Linked DNA regions of Homo sapiens. The protein of the gene in region 1 interacts with the protein of each later gene in a pairwise test. Each region holds a gene or a part of one and is shown in the gene's direction. Other genes may lie near its edges.

Region 1 (3,515 bases):
TCTACTAAAAATACAGAAAAATTAGCGGGGCTTGGTGGCGGGCGCCTGTAGTCCCAGCTACTCGGGAGGCTGAGGCAGGAGAATGGCGTGAACCTGGGGGGCGGAGCTTGCAGTGAGCTGAGATGGCGCCACTGCGCTCCAACCTGGGTGATAGAGCGAGACTCTGCCTCAAAAAAAAAAAATAAAATAAAATAAAATATTACCATTATTTAATGTACTTTTTAAAAAAGCAAGATAATCTAATTAAAAGTAGTCCCTGTTATACATGAGGGGTTTTTATGGTTAACATCTTAAAAGTTACTTAGATTTTTTGATTTTTTTTTTTTTTTGAGACTGAGCTTGCTCTGTCACCCAGGCTGGAGTGCAGTGGCATGACATTGGCTCACTGCAACCTCCACCCTCCAGATTCAAGCAATTCTCCTGTCTCAGCCTCCTGAGTAGCTGAGATTACAGGCGCTTGCCACTACACCCAGCTAATGTTTGTATTTTTTTTTAGTGGAAACAGGGTTTCGTCATGTTGGCCAGGCTGGTCTTGAACTCCTAACCTCAGGTAATCTGCCATCCTCAGCCTCCCAAAGTGCTGGGATTACAGGCAAGAGCCAACGCACTTGGCCCACGTTAGTTTTTTTTTTTTTTTTTTTTTTGAGATATGGTCTCACTCTGTCACCTAGGCTGGAGTGCAGTGGTATGATCAAAGCTAACTGCAGCCTCAGCTTCCCCAGGCTCAAGTGATTCTCCCACCTCAGCCTCCTGAGTAGCTGGGACTATAGGCATGCACCACCATGCTTGGTAATTTATTTATTTTATTTATTTATTCATTTATTTATTTTTTGGAGATGGAGTCCCTCTCTGTCGCCCAGGCTGAAGTGCAATGGCGCGATCTCAGCTCACTGCACCCTCCACGTCCCAGATTCAAGCGATTCTCCTGCCTCAGCCTTCTGAGTAGCTGGGATTACAGGCGTCTGCCACCACAACTAGCTAATTTTTGTATTTTTAGTAGAGATGGCATTTCACCATGTTGGCCAGGCTGGTCTTGAACTCCTGACCTCAGGTAATCCACCTGCCTCGGCCTCCCAAAGTGCTGGGATTACAGGCCTGAGCCACCGCACCTGGCTGCCTGGCTAATTTTTGTATTCTTTATAGAGATGGGTTTTCGCCATGTTGCCCAGGCTGGTTTCAAACTCCTGGCCTCAAGGGATCTGCCCACCTCGGCCTCCCAAAGTGCTAAGATTATGGTATGAGCCATTGCACCCAGCCAAAAGTTAGTTTTTTTTTAAAGCCAAGCCATGCGCCTGTAGTCTTAGCTACTTGGAAGGTTGAGATGGGAGAATCACTTGAGCTCAGAAGTTAAAGGCTAGCCTAGACAACATAAAGAAACCCTTGTCTCCAAAAATAAAACAATGAAATAAATGTTAATTTTTTAAAAAATATTGAACATCGGCTGGGTATGCCTGTAATCCCAGCACTTTGGAAGTCTAAGATAGGAGGATCACTTGAGGCTAGGAGTTCAAGACCAGCCTAGGCAACATAGTAAGACGCCATCTCTGCAAAAAAAATGTAAGAAAACTAGCCGGGCACAGTGGTACGCACCTGTAGTCCCAGCTACTGGGGAGGCTGAGGCAGGAGGATCACTTAAGCCTGGGAGGTCAAGGCTGCATTGAGCCATGATAGCACCACTGCACTCCAACCTGGGTGACAGGGTGAGACTCTGTCTCAAAAAAAAAAAATGTATGTATATATGTCCTATGTCTTCCTTTATTTATACTACTATATATATGTATATGCACACGCATACACACACACACACACACTGAAAGAAAATGATGAGAATATAGTTAGGTTTTAGGAGAGCAAGAGGAGGTAGGGGACTGTCTGTGATATTTTTTCTCAATATAGTAAGAGAAGAAAGAATATTTATTATGGACCAAATATACGTCTGGGTCATCTATTTCTGATCTAGTTAGTCTACTGGAGAAGAGGATGCTGTATCTGAAGCAAGATAAGTTAATGAAAAGAAAATTAGTTTTAATGTATTTCATAGTAAGTATTTTAGAAGAAAATATAATAAATGAAGGAAAGCATAAGTGGACTCATCATCTTAGTTGCAGAACATTTCTAGAAATGACATCTAAGATTAGGCCACTAAAGGAAGCATTCTTTTCACTTTGTATTTCAGTCTCTCTGGGGTCATTGGTGGAAAATGGCAAAGCAGTCTGTGAAGCAGAAAGTGCGTGTATTTGTTGAGCAGTGTCTTGTGGGTAGAACACTGAAATGCTGAGGGGTGAAAAGGAAAACTGGCTTTCAGGGAGAGAGGGAAAAATGGACTGCTCGTCACTCTTTTCTGATCTTCTTAATGAATGACCCCTCTCCTCTACTTGTTATTTGATAATGACTACTCAAAATTTCATTGTTCCCTTCTTTTTAGCTAGAATGGGTACTAGGAAAAAAGTTCATGCATTTGTCCGTGTCAAACCCACCGATGACTTTGCTCATGAAATGATCAGATACGGAGATGACAAAAGAGTAAGTGCGATGTGTTTGCCTTCAACTGACTGGGCCTCTCTGTCCCACCTTGCTATAGTGTGACCGTATTTCCAAGCAACCTTTGAAGGACCAAGACAGAATTGGACAGGATCCAATGGACTCTAGAGCCCATCAAATCCAAACCACCCCCTCACACACTGCTAATGAAGAAATTAATAAAATCCCATCGTTAATTGTCTTTTAATAATTTTACCTTTAATAAATTAATAAGTTTACCTTTACCCTCGTATCTGACACAGAAGAATTGACATTTGTTCACATTCATAAAGCTTTCTAATGATTGATCTGTCATTGTATAATCGCCCATGGGGTGCAGTAAGAATATCTTGAGTTCATTACTGTTTAGCTTATCAAAACAGCTGGAGAAATACTTATCAAGAGAAGTGGAAAGATATATCCGTCCCTATATCCTCACCCTGAGAATGCTTCTGAAGGCTTAGGACAGTGTAAGAGTGTTAGATATTTTCATTCAGCAAACAATTATGGGCCTACTCTGGGCAGCATTGAGACATTCTTCAAAGGAAAAATTCAAGGGCAAACTGCCCAAGCCTCGCAGGTCCTAGCGGTCAGAAAAGAGCTCACATGCAGCCCTATCAAATGTGTCCTGCTGGACATGGTTTTCAGCGAACACAGAAGCACAGAGCATTTAATGTGTGAGTGGACCAAGTCTTTCTTTCTTTCTTTTCTTTTTTTTTTTTTTTTTTTGAGACAGAGTCCCACTCTGTTGCCCAGGCTGGAGTACAGTGGCACAATCTTGGCTCACTGCAACCTCCGCCTCCCAGGTTCAAGCGATCGTCCTGCCTCAGCCCTGCTAGTAGCTGGGATTACAGGCACGTGCCACCATGCCTGGCTAATTTTTGTATTTTTAGTAGAGACGGGGTTTTGCCATGTTGGCCAGGCTGGTCTGGAACTCCTGACCTCAGGTGATCTACCTGCCACGGCCTCCCAAAGTGCTGGGATTACAGGCGTGA
Region 2 (4,176 bases), on another chromosome or scaffold:
TTCCATTTTATGGAGGAGTGGCAGAAAAGTGTGGTGGTTAGGAGAGCAAATGTAAGTGTTAGAAGAGTCCATTTTGATTCCGGTTCTGTCGTTTATCAGTTGTGAATTTGGGAAATGTATCTAACTCCTCTGAGATTTACAATGTCCTCAAATATCAAGATGTAGAGAACACTTAATCTCTTAGGGCCTCTCTGTCTTTGCCATCATCATCATGGTTATTACGTACTTTGGATTTTCTCATCTTAATTTTTTCTCCTACCTGAAATTGCCATGTTATTCCCCTTAAACCCTTAGATTAAGAGATGGCTGCAATGTACTACTATGCTGCTAATAGTAAATATTTATTGTACACTTACTATATGCCAAGTGCTTTTAGTGCATTATCTCATTCAATCTTTACAACCCCTCCACGAGATAAATACTGGTGTCATCTATAATTTATAGTTAGAAACAGAACTCGCCTAGAACTGGACATTGCTGATTTCACTTCCCCCTTTTCCTGCCCACCACCCTGACTGCCAACTGACTTCGGAACTCCAAAAAGGCATCCATGAAAACGACAGGAATTGCCTGCAGGAAATTGAATGCTCCAGGAGTTTGACACTAAAAAGATTGGGAACTGTCCACCAACTTGTGCTACCGAGAATAGTGGTTGTTGAAAGGAATTTCGGTCTCTATCCAAACTTACTTTTCCTCAGGGATGTGTCAATTACCTCCAAGTCCTGTTCAGAAGGGTAGCTGGAAAAACAGTGAAACCAAGTAACTCACCTGAGAACAAGCCGGGAGTAGTGCAAAGGAATCAACCAGACTCTTAATTTATTACAAAGTCCAGCCACTCCGTTTGCTTTCTAAAAACCTTGTTGCCTGGTATTGAGTAAAAGATGCTATAAAGGACGAACACGTTTGGAAGTAATAATAATCTGCTATTATGCGACATAATTTTCTCCACATTTGTTGTTATTTTTCTGATAATAAATTTCATACTTTTTATTGGAAAACCACAGAAAATGCAAAAAATAGCTAAGCCGTTGGTATGTTTCTATCTAGATTTCAATTAAATTTTAATTATTCTCTCCCCGTGCCTAGCCCCCCTTGCCCCATTTTTAAAAAGACCTGGAGTTCAGGGTAGGAGACATCAAGAGCATCCTAGAGGGCAGCAGCACAAATTCACTCCCCTCCAGACCCTGCAGCTTGCTTCGCCCATCTCCCCTCCCCCTGAGCTTGGTCGCTTATCATTGGTCATTGCCATGGCAACCAGCAGCTGCCGGGCCAGCAGCCTCTACCGCAGCAGGGGTGGGGCACTGGGGGAGGGGGAGAGAGAGAGGAGGAGCCAGAGGAGGTGTCTGCTGCAAGTTCCTGGCTGCTTCCGAGCTCACCCCATCCTCCGAGAGGGAGGAGGCCCAACTGGTGATGCTGCTGCTGCTGCTGCTGCCGCCGCCGCCGCCTCTATTGCTGATACTCTAGTGGGGCTGGAAGGGTGGTTCCTATTCGCACCATCGCCAACCAGAGACAGAGGGAAAAAAAAAACCGGCAGCCACTGCTGATGTTGGGTTCGGAGGCTGCATCCGACTCGGTCACAAGGAAAATGGATTCAGTTTGCATCTCTCCCTCCTTTAAACAGCTTCTCCGGGTCTCAGCATGGTGAGTAGGAAACAGTAGGGCTCCCTTCTTGGTTTAGAGTGTTCTTATTTGACCTGTGTATACATTTCTGGCCTGAACTTGAACAATGACTCCCGTGCCTCAGACTAGAAGGGGGAGATGTGGAGACAGAGATGAGGATGGAGGGAGAGGAAGCTTGCCAGGAAGAGAGAAGTGAGAAGACAACCTCTTGTGTTTAAAAAAAAAAAATGGTGTTCTGATTTTATCTCTAACTGGCTCAGAATGCAGACTGAGCCACTTGGTGCCTTTTTTCCTAAGCTTAGCAACAGCATCAGGGGTTGGAAAAAGAGCTAACAACAAGAAGAGGGTGTTATTGAAAGGAATCATTTCATTTGCAGCTCTCACATACAGGGTTGGGCCTTCTTCAGAAATACATTTGGTGTCTCATAAGCTTACCAGACTCATTATAAGGTGGTTTTGCTTATTTTATTGATTGCTTAGAAAAAGTGGCCCCAGAATTTGACATTTTATTTTATATTCTAATATACTCTTGTTGAGAAATCATTTGCAAGACCCAGTTTTATTTTATACGTAGATTTGACTGTGAACTTACACATGTATATCTTATGGATATACAGATCATATATACACATGTCACTTAGCATTTATATTGCATTTATGAAGCATATTTATATGTAGGGTGTGCTTTGCAACCATTTTTATGGGTTACATATGTCCTTGCATGCCTGGAAGTAATTGCATGTTTTTGAAACTATGCTTCTGGTTTATATTATTATTCATTGGCTTTATTTGGATTAATGTGAAATTTACTCTGGTTATTGTCCCTTAGTTTCATTGTGACCGATTGGAACAGATGCCTATCGTTTGATCTGTGTCATAGAACTAGATGCAAATTTGTAGCCTGCCTCTTTATTTTTAATTGGGTTTGTGGGGGATGATATTGAGGACTCTGAATTTACAATGATGGGAATGGGAGGCGGTTTGTGGTATTATTTTGTGTCTAGCATCTTACCAAATCAATGTTGAAGCAAATCAGTTTTCTTGAAATGCCACCCCAACCTTTTCATGTTTGTGCCTTGTGTCCCAGGAAGCACAGCTAAGCTGGAAGGTGAAATGTATTCATTTTATTTAATAGTGCTGCTATCTGATGTTCATTCCTTCAGTATCCAGGAACCATTTCACAGTTCTCTCAGATGTTGTATTAAGGGTCTCCTTCTGTAAATAATTAAGTAGGAAAGTAGGATTGTTTTGAAAATCTAGGTATTCCCAAGCACCCTAGCCCAGCCGTTTCCAAATTAGTCTGCTTATACAATGAAATGAAACCAGAGAGTGAGCAAAGCGAGCAGGAGAATGTGTGGCTTGTAGCTGAAATGGGGGTCTATTGTAATTTACAAATGCTTACTGGGATCTGCTTGACCTTTTATTATGTCAAGGCTTTAAGGCAGTTCAGGAGACTAAAGATGCGTGAGATGAGGAGGTTCCATTCCCGCCCAGGATAATGGATTTCATTGAATTAAAGCCAGAAAAAATTATGTAGGTAAAGTGTATTAGTAATATTACATTTACCACATGGGCTATTATAGTTTTATCCATTATTCTCTTCTCTAACAATATCATTGTCAGTACAGACATTTTTTACAATGTAAAATAACAATTGTTTGGGTCTTTAGTCTTGCATCTGATTCTACATACACCCCCCACATTTATAATTTTCACATGTATTTGAACCAGGTTTATAGTTTAATTTTGCTGAGAATAATTGTTCTATTTGGTTTATACATGAGAAGGGCCCTTGGTGACTCAATTGTGCATGTGCTCATAGCATGTTATATATTATAGATCCATAGCTTTGTAAACTCATGCTACTTTGTGCCTAATTTTAACAACTATATGAAGTAGGGCAAGGAAAGAGGTACTGGGCTTGTATGTTATAACAAATTGTATAACACATTGCATCCTGAATCTTTTAGTGATAACACTTGACTTCCAAAAATTAAAATGTTAGATATGCCTATAGCACACTTAAAAAATTAAGATTTGTACTAGTTGACCCCATTTCATGCAATGAAAGCAGATATCCTGGGGCTTTGTTTTTGTTTCTTTTTTTTGAGTTTTCATTTGGAGGTGGTTTTATAGGCAAAGTTGGTACAGTTTGAACAGAGGCAAATCCCTTAGGCCATGTGCTTAAAACTCCTTGTAGATAGCCTGTTTCAGCTATGTGTCAGCTATTACCCTGATAGAAATACAGGTCTAGCTTTTGACCCCACTATTTAAGACAATTATATGGCCTTTGCTAAGGGGCCATAGAAAAGTGAAGTGTGTTTCAAGCACTAGAAGTTGAACTCTCTGAGGAAAGATTTTTAAAAGCTAGGATCATTTCATTTAGAGAAGAGAAAAATGAAATATGGCAATCGTTTGTTTCAGATAAGCTAAGCATGGGGCATAAGCACAGGACATTGCTTATTGCTATTTTTTGGAACCTCAAATGTAGTCAATGGGCTTCAACTTTATGAGGAATTATGAAGATGAGAAATATGCAAATGTAGAAGTTCCTCA
Region 3 (3,515 bases), on another chromosome or scaffold:
ATGGCAATCTTCAGAATATCTACATTCTCATGGTACTGATTCAGTCATACACCCAGGATTATGCAAAATACACAGGTATCTGTGTGTTCCCTTGACCTTAGGAAACCTGAATTTTTTATAATGGATAGTTAGAATGCCTACCCTTTGCTGTAGAAGGAGACCGACTCTGTCTTCCAAGGCTGTTCACTGTATAAACAACTTGGTAAAATAGTGCAGAACAAAAACACTTAGTACCTCTTCTTGCAAGATACGCAGAAACATGCAAGACCCATGGAGAATTGTCTCCCATCAAATTTGGCCATTTCCTTGTTACTTCATTTTCCAACAGAGAGAAACCTGCTTCTCAGAATCAATAATTAGCTCTATCCTAGAATACATGCAAATTAGTTCAGAGTTGCCAACCTGGACCTGTGTAAAAAGTATTTAGTAACTACAGTAGAGAATCTCTGTGTAGCTCTTTTTCTTTAAGCTTATAGTATATAGTAAACAAACATCTTCCAAAGTTACTCAATTTAGTTCTTTTCTTTGCCACTCTTTTCAGTATGTTTTTTTTTTTTCTTACATTTTTCTTACATTTAAGGATCATTTGTTGCATTTTGGGTTCCCCCACATCCTGGTTGATTGTAGCAGGCTACACTATTTTGAATGTGAAAACATTCGCAGGGGACAGTGGCTCACTCCTGTAATCCCAACACTTTGGGAGGCCGAGGCCGGCGAATCACGAGGTCAGGAGATCAAGACCATCCTGGCTAACACGGTGAAACCCCGTCTCTACTAAAAATACAAAAAATTAGCCGGGCGTGGTGGCGGGCGCCTGTAGTCCCAGCTACTGGAGAGGCTGAGGCAGGAGAATGGCGTGAACCTGGGAGGCGGAGCTTGCAGTGAGCCGAGATCGCGCCACTGCACTCCAGCCTGGGCGACAGAGCGAGACTCCGTCTCAAAATAAATAAATAAATAAATAAAAATTAACTTAGTTCCCACAGACTCCTTGTATATATTCAACTTCATTCGTTTCTGCTTTATCCTTGCTGTGTTTCTTTTGCACAAATGAAGAGTTACCTATATTCTTTTTACATTAAAGATAGCATTCTCTAGGCACTCTTTTGTACATTGTTTCTTTCTCTTAATGATACATTCTGGATAACACTCAGGCAGTTAAAGAGATATTCATAATTCTTTTCTAATTGTTACATAATACTGCAGCCTGTGGATTTATCATAGTTTATTGAACCGCTTTCCTACGTATGGATATTTAGGTCATTTACAATATTTTGTTACTAGAAACAGTGCTGCAATAACCTTGTATATATGTATTTTTCTATTGCTGGAGGAGTATCTTTAGGGTAGATTCCTAGAAGCGGTATTGCTGGGTCAAAAGGTAAGTGCTTTGTAGTTTTGTTAAGTATTGCAAAATTCCTCTCTAGAACTGTTGTACCAGTTTTTATTCCTACTTGCTGTGTATGAGCATGTCTGTTTCCCTTCACAGCCCACCTAACAGAATATGTTGTCATGTTTTTTAGTTTTCACCAGTCTAATAGATGAGAAATAGTACCTCAGTGTTCTTTTCTTTTTTTTTTTTTTTTTTTTTTCCCGAGACAGTGTCTTGCTCTGTTGCCGGGGCTGGAGTGCAGTGGCGCGATCTCGGCTCACTGCAACCTCCGCCTCCTGGGTTCAAGTGATTCTCCTGCCTCAGCCTCCTGAGTAGCTGGGACTACAGGCGCGTGCCGCCACGCCCAGCTAATTTTTGTATTTTTGGTAGAGATGGGGTTCCACCATGTTGGCCAGGCTGGTCCCAAATTCCTGACCTCAGGTGATCCACCAGACTCGGCCTCCCAAAGTGCTGAGATTACAGGTATGAGCCCCTGTGCCCAGCCCTCATTGTTGTTTTCTTATTTCTCTCATTATGAGTGTGTTTGAACATTTCAGAGTCTTTTAAAAGATTGCCTGTTTATGTCTTTCCCCATTTTTGTAGCAGATATTTATTTAGTACTTTGTCTTTTATGACTAGTGCTTTTTTTTGAAACGAAGTCTCACTCTTGTTGCCCAGGCCGGAGTTCAGTGGTGTGATCTCAGCTTACTGCAACCTCTGTCTCCTGGGTTCAAGCGATTTTCCTGCCTCAGCCTCCTGAGTAGCTGGGATTACAGGCGTCTGCCACCATGCCCGGCTAATTTTTTTTGTATTTTTAGTAGAGACAGCATTTCAACATGTTGGCCAGGCTGGTCTCGAACTCCTGACCTCAGGTGTTCCGCCTGCCTTGGTGGGCCTTGGCCTCCCAAAGTGCTGGGATTACAGGCATAAGCCACCACGCCTGGCCCCGAAGCTTTTAAACATTCACATTCACACTTAAGTCTGTGATCCCTCTTAAATTAATTCTTATGTATGGGGTAAAGGTTAATTTTTTTTTTTCCAGTTGGGTGCCTAGTTGTTTCAGCACTGTTTATTGAAAAGATTGTCCTTGCCCATCTAAACTGCATGGAGGCTGGGCAAGGTGGCTCACGCCTGTAATCCCAGCACTTTGGGAGGCCGAGGCAGGCAGATCACCTGAGGTCAGGAATTTGAGACCAGCCTGGCCAACATGGTGAAACCCTGTCTCCACTAAAAATACAAAAATTAGCCGGGTGTGGTGGCAGCCACCTGTAATCCCAGCTACTCCAGAGGCTGAGGCAGGAGAATTGCTTGAACCTGGGAGGCAGAGGTTACAGTAAACCAAGATCTTGCCACTGCACTCCAGCCTGCGTGACAGAGTGAGACTCTGTCTCAAAAAAAAAAAAAAGAAAAAAAAATTGCATGGAGTCTTTGTCATAAATCAGGTGACAGTATATACATGTGGTTATGTGGCTCTCTTTCTGGACTCTATATTCTATTTGGTTTTATTGTTTTGTCTGTACTGCTGTCTTGAAATCTGTAGTTTTAGTCCTCCTACTTTTTTTCTTTTCCAAGCTATCTCGGCTATTATAAGCTCTTCTAATTTCCAAATAAATGTTAGAATCAACTTGCTAATTTTTACCTTATTCCCCCCAAAGCCTTGCTGGGGTTTTCTTTACAAATATATGTGTTCATTTTGGGGCCTGATGCAGTGGCTCACACCTGTAATCCCAGCACTTTGGGAGTCCAAGGCTGGAGGATTGCTTGAGCCCAAGAGTTTAAGACAAGCCTGGGCAACACAGTGAGACCCTGTCTCTACCAAAACAAAAACAAAAACAAAAAAACAACTAAAACCAAGCAAACACGCAAACAAACAAAGAAACAAAACCCCAAACATTTAGCTGGACTTGATGGCGTGCTTCTACTCCTCGCTTCTCAGGAGGCTGGGGTGGGAGAATCCCTTGAGCCCCACAGGTTGAGGCTACAGCGAGCTTTGATCGTGCCACGGCACTCCGACCTGGGTAACAAAGCAAGACCCTGATTCAAAAACAAAAACAAAAACTGTGTTCATTTTGGGAGAATTGACATCAATATTCAATCTATAGTACATATGGTATATGTCGACATTTGTTAAGATCCTTAATTTCTC
Region 4 (3,515 bases), 2.8 Mb from region 1:
AATACTTTTTAACACTTTAAACTATTTGGATTATCTTATAAACTGATCTGTGGGCCGTGTGTATTTTTAACTATGTCTTTTAAAGGTACAAAATGTGACTGACTTTAGAATGAAAATTATTTTCCCTGGCAGAGTGAGTAGAACAGAGCGTAGTGGAAGATACGGTTCCATCATAGACAGGGATGACCGTGATGAGCGTGAATCCCGAAGCAGGCGGAGGGACTCAGATTACAAAAGATCTAGTGATGATCGGAGGGGTGATAGATATGATGACTACCGAGACTATGACAGTCCAGAGGTGAGTGACCAGCGGCTGTATAACCCCCCAAAACACTCTGAGCCTTATAGTAATAGAAATAACAGCCAGGCAGCCAGGTCCAGTGGCCCCTTCCCATAATCCTATCACTTTGGGAGGCCAAGGCGGCCAGATCACTTGAGGTCAGGAGTTTAAGACCAGTCTGGCCAACATAGTAAAACCCGTCTCTACTAAAAATACAAAAATTAGCTGAGTGGGGTGGTGGGCGCCTGTAATCCCAGCTACTTGGGAGACTGAGGTAAGAGAATCACTTGAAACCTGGGAGGCGGAGGTTGCAGTGAGCTGAGATTGTATCAGTGCTCTCCAGCATGGGTGACAAAGCAAGACTCCATCTCAAAAAAAAAAAAAAAAGAAAAGAAATAATGGCCAGGGTTTACATAGGGATCACCATGTACTTTTGAGCACTTGACTTCATGAATTCATTTAGGTCTCAGTACAACCTGATAAGGTAGGTGTTATTCCCATTTTAAAGATGAAACAATGGGGTTATGATAACATATTAGTTCTGTGTTTTGAAATGAATGATAAATATAAGTTGTTGGCCAGGCACAGTGGCTCACACCTGTAATCCCAACAATTTGGGAGGCCGAGGCAGGAGGATCCCTTGAGCCCAGGAGTTAGAGGCCAGCCTGGGCACCATAGGGAGACCCTGTCTTTAAAATAATAATAATGAAAAATAATAAATATAAGTTGTTGTTTTGGTCATCTTGATATATCTTTTTTTTTTTTTTTTTTTTTTTTTTTTGAGACAGCTTTTTAGTCTTGTCACCCAGGCTGGAGTGCAGTGGTGCGACCTCAGCTACTCAGGAGGCTGAGGTACGAGAATTGCTTGAGCCTGGGAGGCAGTGGTTGCAGTGAGCTGAGATCATGCCATTGCACTCCAGCATGGACGACAGAGGGAGACTCTGTCTCAAAAAAAAAAAAAACCAGAAGGCCGGCACGGTGGCTTACGCCTGTAATCCCAGCACTTTGGGAGGCCGAGGCGGGCGGATCATGAGGTCAGAAGATTGAGACCATCCTGGCTAACATGGTGAAACCCTGTCTCTACTAAAAATACAAAAAATTAGCTGGGCGTGGTGGCAAGTGCCTATAGTCCCAACTACTCGGGAGGCTGAAGGAGGAGAATTGCTTGAACCCAGGAGGCAGAGGTTGCAGTGAGCAGAGATCATCGCACCACTGCACTCCAGTCTGGGCAATAAGAGTGAAACTGTCTCAAAAAAAAAAAAAAAGAAAACACAGCAGGCTGGGTGTGCCTATAATCCCAGCACTTTGGGAGGCCATAGCAGGAGGGTCATTTGAGGCCAGGAGTTCAGACCAGCCTGGGTAACATAGTGAGACCCCTGTCTCAAAAAAAAAAAATTGCAGTGAACATTACCATGGAGTGCTTGTGTAATCTCTGTACACTTCCTGCTAAGGATAATTTCTAGGAGTGGAGGGTCTGTTTCAAAGAGTACAGGGTGATGTTAATTGTGATTTTGTTTATTGTAACTCAGAGAGAGCGTGAAAGAAGGAACAGTGACCGATCCGAAGATGGCTACCATTCAGATGGTGACTATGGTGAGCACGACTATAGGCATGACATCAGTGACGAGAGGGAGAGCAAGACCATCATGCTGCGCGGCCTTCCCATCACCATCACAGAGAGCGATGTAAGGGGAAATGACAGTTATAACCAGCAGTCAGTAGGCACAATGAACTTTGAGCTTCTACCATTATTTTCTCATGCTATTGTTTTATCTTAAGCCAATAGAGGTTGAGTATCCCTTATCCAAAATGCTTGGGACCAGAACTGTTTTGATATTTTTTTTTAATATTTGCATTTACATAAGTTTAAACATTTGCATTTACATAAGTCTAAACATGAAATTCATTTGTATTTTGTATATGTCTTATACATGCCAAAGGTAATTTTATACAACACTTTAAATAATTTTTTTTTTTTTTTTTTAAGACAGAGTCTTGCTCTGTCACCCAGGCTGGAGTGCAGTGGTACAACCTCGGCTCACTGCAAGCTCTGCCTCCCGGGTTCACGCCATTCTCCTGCCTCAGCCTCCTGAGTAGCTGGGACTACAGGCGCCCGCCACCGCACCCGGCTAACTTTTTTCGTATTTTTAGTAGAGACGGGGTTTCACTGTGGTCTCCATCTCCTGCCACCCGCCTCGGCCTCCCAAAGTGCTGGGATTACAGGCGTGAGCCACCTTGCCCGGCCAACACTTTAAATAATTTTATACACAAAACAATGTGTGCTTTGTTTTTTTGTTTGTGATATTTTTGTTTCTGTTTTTTACAGGCAGGGTCTCATTGTCACCCAGTCTGGAGTATAGCAATGCAATCATAGCTCACTGCAGCCTCAAACTCCTGGGCTCAAGTGATCTTTTTACTTCAGTAGCTGGCAGGTGCATGCCACCACACCCAGCTAATTTATTTTTTGTAGAGCCAGGCTGGGCTAAGTATGTTGCCTGGACTAAAAGGTTTGACTGCCCTCTTGTCTGTGACCTTTCAAATAAGGTCAGGGGTGGAATTTTCCACTTGTTGTGTCATGTTAGTGCTCAGAAAATTTCAGATTTTGGAGCATTTCAAATTTTTGGATTAGGGTTGCTCAACCTGTATCTATCTCAGCTAGTGAAATATTTTTCTGTCTTTAGGGAAAAGTTCACTGAACTAGGTTCAGAAGTAAGTTACCATTTTGGCCAGGCGCGGTGGCTCATGCCTGTAATCCCAGGCACTTTGGGAGGTCGAGGCGGGTGGATCACTTGAGGTCAGGAATTTGAGACCAGCCTGGCCAACATGGTGAAACCCTGTCTCTACTAAAAATACAAGAATTAGCTAGGTGTGGTGGTGCATACCTGTAGTCCCAGCTACTTGGGGAGGTGCTGAGACAGGAGAATGGCTTGAACCTGGGAGGCGGAGTTTACAATGAGCCAAGATCACGCCATTGCACTCCAGCCTGGGTGACAGAACAAGACCCTGTCTCAAAAACAAAAAGAAGTAAATTACCATATTTAGGCTTTGAAGCTCAATGTATGAGTTTTCTAAATGTCTTTAACCACAGGGAGCAGGTCTTCTGTCTTCATTAGCTCCTAGAAGATAATCAATATATTTTTATTGAATTAGTTACTTATTAGATGAGGATGATTGGTAAATACCTAATTTTCTTTATAATCTGGCCACCCTTTTATTTGTTGAAAATTGAACTACC
Region 5 (4,170 bases), on another chromosome or scaffold:
TAAATTGGCCGGATGCGGTGGCTCACGCCTGTAATCCCAGCACTTTGGGAGGCAGAGGTGGGATGATCACTTGAGGCCAGGTATTGAATGAAGACCAGCCTGGGCAACATAATGAGACTTCTGCCTCTACAAAAATTGTTTTTAAAATAATTAATTTAAAAAGATACAATAGGCCGGGCGCGGTGGCTCACGCCTGTAATCCCAACACTTTGGGAGGCCGAGGTCGGCGGATCACGAGGTCAGGAGATCGAGACCATCCTGGCTAATATGGTGAAACCCCGTCTCTACTAAAAAATACAAAAAATTAGCTGGGCGTGGTGGCGAGCGCCTGTAATCCCAGTTGCTCGGGAGGCTGAGGCAGGAGAATGGCGTGAACCCGGGAGGCGGAGATTGCAGTGAGCCGAGATCACGCCACTGCACTCCAGCCCGGGAGAGAGTGAGACTCCGTCTCAAAAAAATAAATAAATAAAATAAAATAAACAAAATAAAAAGATACAATAAATTATTGGTAACTATAATCGTTGTATTGTGCTACCGAACACTGGATCTCATTCATTCTAACTGTATTTTTGTACCCATTTCCCCCCCTCCCCAGTACCCTTCCCAGCCTCTGGTAACCATCATTCTGCGATGTCCATTTTGCTTACTCTTTTTTTTTTTTTGAGATGGAGTCTCACTCTCGCCCAGGCTGGAGTGCAGTGGGGCAATCTTGGCTCACTGCAATCTCCACCTCCCGGGTTCAAGCGATTCTCCTGCCTCAGCCTCCCGTGTAGCTGGGATTACAGGCGCGCGCCACCACGCCCGGCTAATTTGTGTATTTTTAGTAGAGATGGGGTTTCACTATGTTGGCCCGGCTGGTCTCGAACTCCTGACCTCAGGTGATCCGCCCGCCTTGGCCTCCCAAAGTTCTGGGATTACAGGCATGAGCCACCGTGCCCGACCATCTTCCAAAACTGAGCTGTGATGTCCTTCCTCTAGAACACCTGACCACAGGACATGACTTTTTTTAATCCCCAGTGCCTAAGTGTCTAGAGAGCTGAGTGGGTTGCCTCGGATCGGCCAGGCCTGGATATCAGCGAACAGATGCGGATTTCCACCAGGGGGCGCTAGGACGCCACGACCTTTCACTATGTGCACCAGGGGGCGCTGCCGCCCGCCTTGGCCATCCCGGGCTGGGAAGTCCGACCCTTCGATTAAGCCCCGCCTGATTGGGAAAGGCTCTGAGAAACTATTTGCATGATCTTGAAAGAGCTGTGCTGAATGGTTGAGGTAGGTAAGCCGAATGTGAAACAGGCTCTCTCATTGGCCTAAATTCCCCCCCTCGATCTGCGTCGCCATCCCGGCCCTGCTGGACCCCGGGGTCAGTAGGAAGCCGCGGGGTGGTGGCGAGAGAGGACCCAGGTGTCCTGGCAGTGGGCGCCGCGGGGCACACGCTGGGCCAAGGTGCAGGCGGCCAGGGTGGGAGACTGTTCGCCCCGCCCTGAGTACTCCTATCTTGTTTCTCCACCTGTTCGGGAGTTGGAGATGTGCACCTAAAGGAGGCGCATCTGGGGACGGACACATCTGGCACTGAGGCCCTCGCCACCTGCCTCGCCACCTGGCGACCCTGACCCCACCACACTGCCTTGAGGTAGGAAAAGGAGGCTCCTCAACCACAACTTCTGACCTCCCAGGGTGTCTGAGGCCTCTAAAGAGCTTAGTTTGCCCCTCTGGGAAGTGAATCCTTGGCTTATGGTGCCGGGGGGACCCTGGAGGCCCCCTCACACGAAGGCTGCTTCTTGCAGAGTCGCTCAAAAGTAGGGCCCCAGGGCTCGCAGCAGCATGGGCACCGAGAAAGAAAGCCCAGAGCCCGACTGCCAGAAACAGTTCCAGGCTGCAGTGAGCGTCATCCAGAACCTGCCCAAGAACGGTGAGGCTGCGGGGACTCGCATTTGGACTCGCATTCAGGACGCCTGGGGTCTGACTCTGAAGAAAGAATGGTCCTGATCACTGCAGTTTTTGCAGACAAGCCCCTGCCTGGGCTGTCCTGGGGGTTCCCTCCGCTTCCTATCCTAGTCCAGATGCCCTGGGTGGGACCCATCACCACCTCTGCCCTTTCCAAGCAGGGTTCTCCCGCCCCTCCGCCCCTTGGAGCTGGGAGTGATGCTTTGCCCTGGCTTCCCAACTCTCTGCCCAGGTTCTTACCGCCCCTCCTATGAAGAGATGCTGCGATTCTACAGTTACTACAAGCAGGCCACCATGGGGCCCTGCCTGGTCCCCCGGCCCGGGTTCTGGGACCCCATTGGACGATATAAGTGGTGAGCTCCCTGCTGGCTGGGCAGACAAGCCTCAGCTGTCAAGCAGCCCTCTCACAGCCCTCTGCCCCCAGGGACGCCTGGAACAGTCTGGGCAAGATGAGCAGGGAGGAGGCCATGTCTGCCTACATCACTGAAATGAAACTGGTGGCACAGAAGGTAAGGGCTGCAGGTTCTCTGTCCCCAGGCTCCTGGCCAGGTGGCCTCACCCTTCCAGTTCTGACCCCCACTACGTTTCCTACACATGGACCCCCTCATGGGAATCACCACCTTCATGTTACCCCCAACCCTGCCTATCTTTGGCCCCTGACTGGGCACAGGGTGGAGGTGTGTGACAGGGCAGGAGCAGGGAGGAAGGGACAGGAGGCCACTCCGTCCCCAACAGACCCCCTCCCCTACAGGTGATCGACACAGTGCCCCTGGGTGAGGTGGCAGAGGACATGTTTGGTTACTTCGAGCCCCTGTACCAGGTGATCCCTGACATGCCGAGGCCCCCAGAGACCTTCCTGAGAAGGGTCACAGGTCAGACTCCCAGGCTGGGAGCTCCAAAAGTGCTGAGTGAACCGTCTTAGGTCTAGGCTGAGGTGGGCTGGGGGCAGAGGGCTCCAGGCGACATCCCTGTTAGGGCCCCCAAGCCCCCGAGAGGTGGATCCCAGGCAGCATCCACGGCTCATCACGAGTAGGGGCTTGATCACACTGGGAGGTGCCAGCCTCTCCCCAGGCCCACCTCTGGGTGCTGTGTCTTGGCAGGTTGGAAAGAGCAGGTTGTGAATGGAGATGTTGGGGCTGTTTCAGAGCCTCCCTGCCTCCCCAAGGAACCGGCACCCCCAAGCCCAGGTTAGTGCTTGAGCAGGAGGGGTGGACCAAACTCAGGCTGGGGGAGGGCTGGAGGGGAGAAGGCTGGATGCCACGCTGTGCCCTCCACAGACACTGAGACTTCCTGTGCTCCCAAAGGTGGGGACCGGGGTCTAGGATTCCTGTTCCAGGGCCTTGCTTCTGGCGCCCATCTGTGCCTCAGGTGTTGATATCTCTAGTGCCTCGTATCTCTAGTGTCTCCTAAACAGGTGCTTCTGCCCAGTGCACACTCCTGCTCTCCCTCCACAGCTTCCCTCTGGGCAGTAACTCTACCAACCCCTCCACAGAGTCCCATTCACCCAGGGACCTGGACTCCGAGGTTTTCTGTGATTCCCTGGAGCAGCTGGAGCCTGAGCTGGTGAGCCCAGTCCCCATTCCCCCCTTTTCCCACCCCACTGTGCTCCCACTCCCACCCTCAGCTCTCTGACTCATCTCAGCAGGTTTGGACAGAGCAGCGGGCAGCATCTGGAGGAAAGCGTGATCCCAGGAACAGCCCCGTGCCCCCCACAAAGAAAGGTGAGCTCCTACCCAACCTCTCACCCACTTCTGCCCTTTCCCGTGGTCCTGGCACCCCAGGCTTTCTCTTGGCTGCCTTCCTAGGGCAGAGTTGAAAGTCCATTGCTGGGCACTGAGCGAGAAGCCTCTGTCCAGGAAGGGCTGCCAACCAGCCAGATACCTGCCTGGATGGGCAAAGTCCCCGCCCTCCCTCCTCTCCCCAAAGGGCACCCAGGAGTCTGCACCCTCTGCAGGTCCTGAGTAAGGCCAGCGGGATGGGAGTCCTAGCCCAGTTCTCCCACCTACAGCTGCACAGCCTCAGGAAGTCATCCATATTCTCTGGACTCCCCCGTTTGGAAATCTCAGAAGACAATGAGTTCTGCCCTCTTCCCTTCTAGAACTCCTGTTGTGTGTCAGGTCCTGTATGGACATTTTGAAAAGTTTCTCCTTTTTTCCTCTGAGCAAGCAGCCCTGTGAGAGAAATGACATCTTCTCCTAATTTTTAGATGACAAAATGATGCCCAGA

What was found.
Region 2: the proteins of KIF9 (region 1) and JAKMIP2 interact in a two-hybrid assay, tested with the Homo sapiens proteins (one large-scale study listed by BioGRID).
Region 3: the proteins of KIF9 (region 1) and ZNF566 interact in binary tests that used the Homo sapiens proteins (3 or more experiments, as listed by UniProt).
Region 4: the proteins of KIF9 (region 1) and RBM5 interact in a two-hybrid assay, tested with the Homo sapiens proteins (one large-scale study listed by BioGRID).
Region 5: the proteins of KIF9 (region 1) and ACBD4 interact in a two-hybrid assay, tested with the Homo sapiens proteins (one large-scale study listed by BioGRID and IntAct).

What each region holds. Positions count from the first base shown.
Region 1 is NC_000003.12:47,276,290-47,279,804, reverse strand, and holds part of KIF9 (kinesin-like protein KIF9), read left to right. Parts: intron 1-2,425; coding exon of another isoform or gene 2,426-2,430; coding exon 2,431-2,523; intron 2,524-3,515. UniProt on the Homo sapiens protein: Essential for normal male fertility and for progressive motility of spermatozoa.
Region 2 is NC_000005.10:147,779,921-147,784,096, reverse strand, and holds the start of JAKMIP2 (janus kinase and microtubule-interacting protein 2), read left to right. Parts: upstream 1-1,368; 5' UTR 1,369-1,638; coding exon of another isoform or gene 1,639-1,641; intron 1,642-4,176.
Region 3 is NC_000019.10:36,479,548-36,483,062, reverse strand, and holds part of ZNF566 (zinc finger protein 566), read left to right. Parts: intron 1-3,515. UniProt on the Homo sapiens protein: May be involved in transcriptional regulation.
Region 4 is NC_000003.12:50,091,911-50,095,425, forward strand, and holds part of RBM5 (RNA-binding protein 5), read left to right. Parts: intron 1-132; coding exon 133-298; intron 299-1,809; coding exon 1,810-1,965; intron 1,966-3,515. UniProt on the Homo sapiens protein: Component of the spliceosome A complex. Binds to ssRNA containing the consensus sequence 5'-AGGUAA-3'. Regulates alternative splicing of a number of mRNAs.
Region 5 is NC_000017.11:45,134,324-45,138,493, forward strand, and holds the start of ACBD4 (acyl-CoA-binding domain-containing protein 4), read left to right. Parts: upstream 1-1,363; 5' UTR 1,364-1,630; exon of another isoform or gene 1,631-1,784; 5' UTR 1,785-1,821; coding exon 1,822-1,909; intron 1,910-2,176; coding exon 2,177-2,297; exon of another isoform or gene 2,298-2,368; coding exon 2,369-2,453; intron 2,454-2,695; coding exon 2,696-2,816; intron 2,817-3,044; coding exon 3,045-3,131; intron 3,132-3,398; coding exon of another isoform or gene 3,399-3,436; coding exon 3,437-3,507; intron 3,508-3,568; coding exon of another isoform or gene 3,569-3,589; coding exon 3,590-3,665; intron 3,666-3,952; coding exon of another isoform or gene 3,953-4,042; exon of another isoform or gene 4,043-4,170. UniProt on the Homo sapiens protein: Binds medium- and long-chain acyl-CoA esters and may function as an intracellular carrier of acyl-CoA esters.